Homo sapiens: one gene and its partners. The protein of the gene in region 2 interacts with the protein of the main gene of each other region in a pairwise test. Each region holds a gene or a part of one and is shown on either strand. Other genes may lie near its edges. The genes, in order: HMG20A, GPSM1 and ZBED1.

Region 1 (3,653 bases), on a different chromosome or scaffold from region 2:
TTTGCTGTCTCTATTTCATAGCCTTCACAGGTATTCAAATGAGAATACCCTTTACGTGACTTTTCATTATTTAAGCAAAAGTTTAGAGTGTCTACTATATGCCAGTCACTGTTCTCAGGACTTTGAATACAGTAAATACGGCCAAATATTCATATTCTACTGTAGTTTACTCTCTAATTTACAAATTAAAACTAGAATTTTGCTCCCTTGGTATTCCTAAATAAGATCTATGTTATGATCGTTGTTCAGACTGGGTAAAGAAGCAGCCCTAAACTTGATCTCTCCTGGTCTTAATCTCTAAGCCATTCTAAACCCAGATTTGAATGTTTCAGCCTAATTTTTCTCCAGACCATAGAAGCCCCTGTGTTAAATATGCAGTCCCTTTCATTGATACATGTATCATTTTCCTACCATTCTAGCTTCTTTTGTATTGTGAAAACAAATGAGAGTGAACAGTGGGGAAAATATGGGATCAGATAGGCCCAAATTCAGCACTGGTCTCTGCATTTTACTGGCTGAGCTTACTAGCTTGGTAACCATGAGCAATTTATTTGACCTCCCTAAGCCTCAGTTTTCCTAAATCCAAATGGGGTTGTTTGGTGGAATCAGAATGTTGTATGTAAATCTCCTGGTCCAATGCCTGGTGCCAGAAGCTTCATTAATGCAATTATCTTACCCCCAATCTTGCTTCTGCTACTCTGGCTATTGTGATTTGCCCACATGTCTGTTTTAAGCTTTACATTTTCCCCACAGTATGGGATGCAGTGGTAGACTGACTGAGCTTCAGCCTTGTCCCCCTATCAGCATGCTCACACAGTTGTCAAGATTTAATTTTTTTTCCTTGTGGGAAGGAGAAATCACTAATTTCCATGATTAGAAGATATACAAAATAGAAAAGTTTCAAGAAAAGGAATCTTAATCTTGGCACAAATCACTAAGGTAATTTGAATTGTTACAGGCAGACTTTCAACTCATTCTCCTAAACTTATTTAAATACGAAAACCAAAAATGACCTTTCACACTATGATCATACCTCACATTATTCATCTACACATCCAAACGGGATCGCCTCTGGGGGGAAAAAAATCTGTACTGCACCCAGCATTAATATTTTTTTTTGCTCATGCTATTTTCTGCCTGAAACACTCTTTTTTCCTAGGAATCCCCATCTATCAAAATGCCACTTTCTTTGAGGTCGTTTCTCAAGTACCACATTTAAGAAATATTTTCTGATATCCATCCTCTTCTACACTCTCCCAAACTGTACACGTTCTGTCCATTAACTCTCCAGAGCATTATACCTTTCTTACAGCACTTACTGTCCAGTGCTCCTCTTGTTTGTTTTTATTGCGTTGTTGTAGGTAGAGTTTATGCCTTCCCTAAAAGGCTGCAGACTAGGTCTTATTCCACTCTGTGCTGTCATACCTGGCACAAGACCATTCACATCATAGGTATTCAGTAAATATTTGTGGACGTGAGCTGGCTCTTGGAGTATGACAAAACTGATCAATAACTTTTGTCCACAATTATGCCCAGCATCAGCACAATGGCTATCATACATTAGACACTCAAATATCTATAAAATGAAAGAGTGAATAGTAAGTCATCATTCTCTCATTTGGGAGCTTCTTAGGGTGTCAGATAAGCATATATTAAGCACCTCCTATATAACTGGAGCTGTAAGAACTGATCTCTGCTCCTCAATTTAATTGGAAAAAAGTAAATTGTTACTAATATCTGCAGACTTTGAAGATGGTAGGTGTTTGAGTAGGGATGGCATGGAGAGCTTAATATAGAATTGTTTGCATTGTGAGAGATACCCTCTGCTACCTGAACTCAGAAACCAAATAGATTTTTATATCAAATATTTGGACACTTAACTTGTATTTCCACTCCTAGGTATATATCCAAGAGAACTTAAAACATGTTCACACAAAAACTTGCACACAAATATTTGTAGCAGCCTTATTTGTAAAAGGCAAACTCAAATGTCCATTAATTATTGGATGACTAAACAAAATGCGATATAGCCATACAATGGAATATTATTCAGCAACAAAGAGAAACAAAGTAGCAATACCTGCTGTAACATGGATAAAACTTGAAAATATTAAAGTGAAAGAAGTCACATACAAAAGGCAACCTATTATGTGATTCCATTTATTTAAGATGTCTAGATTAGGCAAAACTAATAGAGACAGAAAGTACATTAGTGGATGGGAATGGGAGTGACTGCTAGTATGGAGTTTCCTTTGGAAGTGATGAAAATGTGCCAGAATTAGATAGTGGTGGTGGTTGCATAACCTTATATACTAAAATATCTTGTATACTAATATACAGTTGACACCTGAACAATGAGGGGGTTCGGGGTGCTAACCCCTGTGTTGTCAAAAATCCATGTATAACTTCTGACTCCCCAAAAAGTTAACTACGTAAATAGCTTACTGCTGACTGGAAGCCTTACCAATAGCATAAATAGTTGATTAACACATGTTTTATATGTTACATGTACTATGTACTGTATTCTTACAATAAGCTAGAGAAAGAAAATGTTACTAAGAAAATGATAAGGAAGAAAAAATATGTTTACTATTTATTATTCGTTAAGTGGAAGTGGATTATCATAAAGGTATTCATCCTTGTCATCTTCACATTGAGTAGGCTGAGAAGGAGGAAGAGGAAAGGTTGGTCTTACTGTCTCAAGTGGTGGAGGCAGAAGAAAATCAGCATATAAGTAGACTCATGCAGTTCAACCCATGTTGTTCAAGGGTCAACTGTACAAAAAAAATCCTGAAATATACACTAAAGGGGTCAGTTTTATGGTATGTGAATTATATCTAAAAGAGAGAGATACTTAGACTTGAAGAATAGAGAATTTTGAATGGAGCCAGAAGAAAGAAGCAAGAGGTGTGAAAGCAAGGAAATGATCATTCTTTCTCAGATCCTAGAGAGAAATATAAGCAGCTAGGTACAGGGCTAAAGGTATGTTAAGGATCAGGTGAGGATGGATATGAGGATAGCTTCTGGGTTTTTGTCTTAATGTAGCAGGGATTTTGGTAAATACTTAGACTACAGAGGTATTAACAAAGGAGAAAAACATCTTATGACCTTGAAGGAAGCTTCAGATTTCTTCTTGATTAGGTCAAGGATGTGGTATATGGTCTTTTTGGTTTCTGTGTTACGGTCAGCTGAGTTTAAAGAGTGGGAGTATTCTAAGGTAAGGAGTCTAGTAGCAATCAAAACAAAGTTACTGGGGAAGATGGGAGAATAGAGACTAGACAAAGATGTTAGAATTTGATTCTAAAGCTCTCCTCAGGTAATAAAAATAGATAAATCTTAATGAGAAGGAACCAAGGGCAGTGATTTGGAGAAGTCAGTACAAATAAAGGTATTCATTTGAAGAAATATTTGAGTGCCTTTTATGTGCCAGGCACTATTAAATAAAACTATAGCTATTTTCCTTATTTGACTTTTTTTCTGAAGATAAAATCTTATGAGTGTGATTAATGGTTCTACAAGCATGGGTAGTTCTAGATATGATACCTACATTTCCCTAAAAGATTGTACTGATTTTTAATGATAACAGCAATGTATAAGGATGTTGTTTTCACCACGATTTTACCAGCAAAAATATTTGGCTAGTTGAACACACA
Region 2 (3,653 bases):
TCCCCATGGGATGGTGTTAGGAGGTCCTGAGGTTTACATGAGGTCATGAGAATGGAGCCCCATAATGACAAGTGGCCTTAAGAGAAGCCACCAGTGTTCTCAAGCTCCCCCTTCTTCCTCGCTGTCTCTGCTAGGTGAGGACACAACAAGAAAGCGCCGTCTGCCAGCCCGGAAGAGGCTCTCGCCAGCACCCGAGCACACAGCACCCAAACCCTGGCCTTCTGGCCTCCAGAGCCGTGAGGAGTAAACGTCTGCTGTTGCTGCCCCGGCCTGCGGTGCTTTGTGAGGGCAGTCGGAATGGACCATGATGGTCATCTCCCAAAGGTGCTGCAGCCTGCTTCCCCTGTTCCTGTCCGCGCCTCCCCTGCTCCTGTCTGCGCCCCACCCCGCTTCTGTCCGCGCCCCCACCCCGCTCCTGTCCGCGCCTCCCCCCGCTCCTGTCCGCGCCTCCCCCCGATCCTGTCCGCACCTCCCCCGTTCCTGTCCGCACCTCCCTGTTGGGCTTTTCTTTCTCCCAAAGCTCATCCCATGTGGCTCACTCCTGGGCTCCCCGTTCCTCACCTATCAGCTGCTGGACGCGGCTCAGCGGTCTTGGTGCCAGTGAGGGCCCCAGCAGTGCCTGGCACACGGCAGGAGCCTGGTGACCAAGCAGCAGGCATTTACTGTGTATCTGCTGCGTGCGGGACCCTGTGTGCCATTTCCCACACACTGTCCCCTCTGGGCCCTCTTAGGCGCACGGACAGAGGGTGCATCCTCCATCCCGGCGGCTGCCCAAGGGCCACTGGGCTGCTGGAACAGGCGGATGGTGCTGCAGCCACACCTGCCTCGTCCACCCAGGGCCCGAACGCAACAGGCTTACGGGCCCTCAGGCTCGCTGGCCTCTCACCCCTGCCAAGCTCTGTTCCCAGCACTACTGATGGGCCCGTTCCCCAGATGGGGACACTGAGGCACAAGTGGGTCAAGTCACTTGATCAGCTGGCCAGGGCTGGAGCCCACAGCCTAAACTGCAGGGGAGGTTATGCCATGCACATCCCTGACCCCAAGGCCACTCGTTGGGACGTTCAGGGGACTTCTCCCAGGAAGGCTGGTGGCATGCTCCCCCAGTAACTCTTGTGTACCGTGCTCACAACGCCCTGAGCAGGGCCCAGACGGTGGAGGGCTGAGAAGTACGGTCAGCAGGGCCGAGGGCAGTCGCACATCCTGTGGGACAGGCAGGGCCATCGGGGACAGGCCAAGGGCAGGGGGCGGTCCTGCAGGGCTCAGGGCCGGCTCCCTCCTCCCAACATGCCAATCATGCTGCCCGCACCAAGAGTGGCAGCAGAGCCTCCGTCCTGCCTGGCACCCTTGCTGGGGTGGGGGGTGGGCAGCCCAGGAGCAAGTGTGGGAGGCCCGGGCCTGTGCCCTCTGGCCAGGGAGGTGGGGGCTGGTTGCTGTCAGGGTCTCATAGAGGCCACACACCCAGAGGAGCTGGACAAGGGCAGTGGCTGGCAGGGTGGTGACCCCCAGACACACTTCTGGGGCTTCTCTGCTGGCTGGGGAGGGGCCAGCAGAGGGCGGTGAGATTAATACGCTGACTGAGCCGCGCCAAGGCTCTTTGTCCTCCAGCCGCACGTAAGTCTCCTTGTGTTTATCAACGGGACACCAAACCCACCAGCCTCTGCCACGCCCACCGCCCCCATGGACCACGCCCACAACAGCAAGGCCACGCCCCACCGCGTCCCCGCCGGGCTGAAGCCCCACCTCCAGACGACTTCCTCCTCCCTGCCCACACCCCGCTGGGCAGCGCCCTCCTGTGCCCCCAGCCCTGGCGCCCCCTCCGCACGGCCAGGCTCTAGCGCGGCTCTGCACCCCCCTCCCCTCCCGCAGCTCGCAGATCCACCCCGCCCTCCGCACCTGCCGAATGGGGAGGCTGCGTGGGTCCTTCCGTGGCGCCCCCAACCCGCAACGCCGGGTCCAGACTCCCGGCCTCAAGGCCCTGTCCCTGCCAGGCTCAGCTGAGCCGGGGTCTCACCCAGGGCCGCCCAGGCTCTAGGTGTGCAGCCTGCCTCCCACAGCGGCAGCCGGGCGGCGGCCCCAGCCAGGCTGCCGGGCTGCCCTGGGCGGGGAGGAGGACCCTTCCCCAGCCCTGGGGGAGGAGGCGTCCGGCCGGCTGGAAGGGGTCCCGCACTCGGGGCGGCACAGAGGAGCCAGAGAGGGACAGAAGCTGCATTGTTCCAGCGTCCTCCCACTCCGGCCCCCCTTTTCCTTGGCTCCAAGAAAGAAAACGTCGGGAGGACCCAGAGCCGCAGCCTCCGCGGAGCCTTTCCAGAGCTGCTCCCAGCCCTGCTGCCAGTTGCTGCTGGGGTCCCAGATGGTGGCAGTGCCGAGCCAGGGACACAGGAGGGTACTAGGGGTGCCGCAGGAGCTCTCGGCAGAGCTCCCCACCCTTAGGAAACCCCGGCCATGGGTAGAAATAGGCCTGGACATCCTGGGGGGCACATTCCAGCCCATCCCCTACCCACCCACTGCCATCGGTCACAGCACCTTGTCCCACGGACTCGCTGAGGGCCCCAGAGCCTCTGCTCCTTCCTCTGTCTTCAGCCTCTGCGGTGGCTGACATGCACCCCCAATTTCCCAGGAGAGGTCATCGTCAGAAACCCATGAGCACTGTGGCACAAAAACCCAGGGGATGGCTGGGCACGGTGGCTCACGCCTATAATCCCAGCACTTCTGGAAGCCGAGATGGGAGGATCGCTTGAGGCTGGGAGTTTGACACTGGCCTGGGCAACATAGTGAGGCCCTATCTCTATAAAAACATTTAATTATTAAAAATAAGATAAGAAAAAGAAACTCCGGCAGCCCAGCACCACATCCAAGCCTGGTGTTCCCAGCCTGGTCCTTAGCAGGCCTGGGGGGCACCAGGTACGTTCTGGGAGGCAGGCATCCCTTCTCGGGGGCTGGCAAACTCAAGACCTTTGGGAGTGGGGGACACATGGGTGGGGCAGCTGCTCCCCCCAAGCCTGCCCCTCACCCACCTGCCAGCCACCTCAGGAAGTCGGCCCAACCTGGCACCACCCCCCTGGCACCTATTAGTCTTTTCGCTTTGCAGGGGACGTTCTGTCCTGTGTCTGCAGCACTGCTGACCGGCATGGGACGACCAGCGGTCCATGAATGAGGTCACCACGGTGGCCTCGCATGGCCTTGGGCCTTGCCTGATTACTGCCCCAGGCACATAGGGCTCCCACAGCCCAGCCCAGCCCAGCCCAGCCCAGCCCTCTGGCTGATGCCCTCTCGCCTCCCAGCAGCCCTCTCCTACTTGGGTCTGAGGACAGAAGCCCTCCCTGCACCGAGGGCTCCAGGGGGAGGTGGGGGTGGAGGCCCTGGAGCAGCCAGTGGGGCAACAGGCGACCACCTCCTGTCCTTCATCCAGCAGCCCTGCAGCGCCACTCAGGATGCGGGTGGGAAGGGCTCAGGGTGAACCTCAGGCCTGTGCTGTCCCTGAGGCCAAGAAGAACTGGCTTGTAGGCGCCATTTTCTGGCGGCTGCCACCTCCGCCATGCTGGCCTGGCCTCGATCCCACCCCTCCGCAGCTCCTGATGCGGTCCGTGCCTGTGGGGAGCAAGACCCCCCCACAACCCTGGAACTCACCCTGGGCCTCATAGCCGGCCAGGTCA
Region 3 (2,674 bases), on a different chromosome or scaffold from region 2:
CAAAAAAAAAAAAAAAAAAAAACTAAAGGCACTTGTCAGGTACAGCCCTGCAAAAATGCCGTGCTCACTCGCAAACCTGTATGTTGACACGTGCGGCATCGCTGCAGTCGGATTAACGTGGAAGAAAGAGCGTATTCCTGCGCTAGGTTCCCTCCTCCACTCTGCAAAAGTGACCCGCAAGGAAGGTCCAGCCGTCCGGCCCCAGTGCCCTTTGGTTGAAAGCGGAGCTGCCCCGGCACCCTGTCTGTCTCCCCGGCAGGGCTCCCGTGCGTGCCTGGGTCCCTTCTCATGCTGTGTTTGTCTTGGCCCTTCTCAGCAGGTCCCCACGCATGAGCAGCCGTCCAGCAGGCAGGCTCCGGTGGAGAAGCAATGGAGAATAAAAGCCTGGAGAGCTCCCAGACAGACCTGAAGCTGGTGGCCCACCCCCGCGCCAAGAGCAAGGTGTGGAAGTATTTCGGCTTCGACACCAACGCCGAGGGATGCATCCTGCAGTGGAAGAAAATCTACTGCCGCATCTGCATGGCCCAGATCGCCTACTCCGGAAACACCTCCAACCTGTCCTACCACCTGGAGAAGAACCACCCCGAGGAATTCTGCGAGTTCGTCAAGAGCAACACGGAGCAGATGCGTGAAGCCTTCGCCACCGCCTTCTCCAAGCTGAAGCCCGAGTCGTCCCAGCAGCCCGGGCAGGACGCGCTGGCCGTCAAGGCCGGCCACGGCTACGACAGCAAGAAGCAGCAGGAGCTGACGGCCGCCGTGCTGGGCCTCATCTGCGAGGGGCTGTACCCAGCCTCCATCGTGGACGAGCCCACCTTCAAGGTGCTGCTGAAGACGGCCGACCCCCGGTATGAGCTGCCCAGCCGGAAGTACATCTCTACCAAGGCCATCCCTGAGAAGTACGGGGCCGTCCGGGAGGTGATCCTGAAGGAGCTGGCCGAGGCCACCTGGTGTGGCATCTCCACCGACATGTGGAGGAGTGAGAATCAGAACCGCGCCTACGTCACGCTGGCCGCCCACTTCCTGGGCCTGGGCGCCCCCAACTGCCTGTCCATGGGCTCCCGCTGCCTGAAGACCTTCGAGGTGCCCGAAGAGAACACGGCGGAGACCATCACGCGAGTGCTCTATGAGGTCTTCATCGAGTGGGGCATCAGCGCCAAGGTCTTCGGGGCCACCACCAACTATGGCAAGGACATCGTGAAGGCGTGCTCCCTGCTGGACGTCGCAGTGCACATGCCCTGCCTGGGCCACACCTTCAATGCCGGCATCCAGCAGGCCTTCCAGCTCCCGAAGCTGGGGGCGCTGCTGTCGCGCTGCCGCAAACTGGTGGAGTACTTCCAGCAGTCTGCCGTGGCCATGTACATGCTCTATGAGAAGCAGAAGCAGCAGAACGTGGCCCACTGCATGCTGGTGAGCAACCGCGTCTCCTGGTGGGGGAGCACGCTGGCCATGCTGCAGCGCCTCAAGGAGCAGCAGTTCGTCATCGCCGGGGTCTTGGTGGAGGACAGCAACAACCACCACCTCATGCTGGAGGCCAGCGAGTGGGCCACCATCGAGGGGCTGGTGGAGCTCCTGCAGCCCTTCAAGCAGGTGGCCGAGATGCTGTCGGCCTCCAGGTACCCCACCATCAGCATGGTGAAGCCGCTGCTGCACATGCTCCTGAACACCACGCTCAACATCAAGGAGACCGACTCCAAGGAGCTCAGCATGGCCAAGGAGGTCATCGCCAAGGAGCTTTCCAAGACCTACCAGGAGACGCCCGAGATCGACATGTTTCTCAACGTGGCCACCTTCCTGGACCCCCGCTACAAGAGGCTGCCCTTCCTCTCCGCCTTCGAGCGGCAGCAGGTGGAGAATCGCGTGGTGGAAGAGGCCAAGGGCCTGCTGGACAAGGTCAAAGACGGCGGCTACCGGCCGGCTGAGGACAAGATCTTCCCGGTGCCCGAGGAGCCTCCCGTCAAGAAGCTCATGCGGACATCCACGCCGCCGCCCGCCAGCGTCATCAACAACATGCTGGCCGAGATCTTCTGCCAGACAGGCGGCGTGGAGGACCAGGAAGAGTGGCATGCCCAGGTGGTGGAGGAGCTGAGCAACTTCAAGTCCCAGAAGGTGCTTGGCCTCAACGAAGACCCCCTCAAGTGGTGGTCAGACCGCCTGGCCCTCTTCCCCCTGCTGCCCAAGGTGCTGCAGAAGTACTGGTGCGTGACGGCCACGCGCGTCGCCCCTGAGCGTCTCTTCGGATCCGCCGCCAACGTGGTCAGCGCCAAGAGGAACCGGCTGGCTCCCGCGCACGTGGACGAGCAGGTGTTTCTGTATGAGAACGCCCGGAGTGGGGCAGAGGCGGAACCCGAGGACCAGGACGAGGGGGAGTGGGGCCTGGACCAGGAGCAGGTGTTCTCCTTGGGGGATGGCGTCAGCGGCGGTTTCTTTGGCATTAGGGACAGCAGCTTCCTGTAGCGAGGAAGCGTGTTGTCTTACAAGTCATCCCCGCAGCAGCCCATTGGATGCTTTGCTGTAAATACTTACCCGGTCAGCTTGGTTTTGAACCTCAGAGACCATCCACTGTCTTTGACACCTAGAAGGTGGAAAAAGGAAAGAGATTTGAGAAGTGAGAGAGGGTCGGGGGCGGTGGCTCCTGTCTATAATCGCAGCACTTTGGGAGGCCGAGGTGGGCAGA

What was found.
Region 1: the proteins of GPSM1 (region 2) and HMG20A interact in binary tests that used the Homo sapiens proteins (3 or more experiments, as listed by UniProt).
Region 3: the proteins of GPSM1 (region 2) and ZBED1 interact in a two-hybrid assay, tested with the Homo sapiens proteins (one large-scale study listed by BioGRID and IntAct).

What each region holds. Positions count from the first base shown.
Region 1 is NC_000015.10:77,423,883-77,427,535, forward strand, and holds part of HMG20A (high mobility group protein 20A), read left to right. Parts: intron 1-3,653. UniProt on the Homo sapiens protein: Plays a role in neuronal differentiation as chromatin-associated protein. Acts as inhibitor of HMG20B. Overcomes the repressive effects of the neuronal silencer REST and induces the activation of neuronal-specific genes.
Region 2 is NC_000009.12:136,340,968-136,344,620, reverse strand, and holds part of GPSM1 (G-protein-signaling modulator 1), read right to left. Parts: coding exon 3,628-3,653; coding exon of another isoform or gene 3,461-3,627; exon of another isoform or gene 2,783-3,460; intron 1-2,782. UniProt on the Homo sapiens protein: Guanine nucleotide dissociation inhibitor (GDI) which functions as a receptor-independent activator of heterotrimeric G-protein signaling.
Region 3 is NC_000023.11:2,488,415-2,491,088, reverse strand, and holds part of ZBED1 (E3 SUMO-protein ligase ZBED1), read left to right. Parts: intron 1-316; 5' UTR 317-369; coding exon 370-2,454; 3' UTR 2,455-2,674.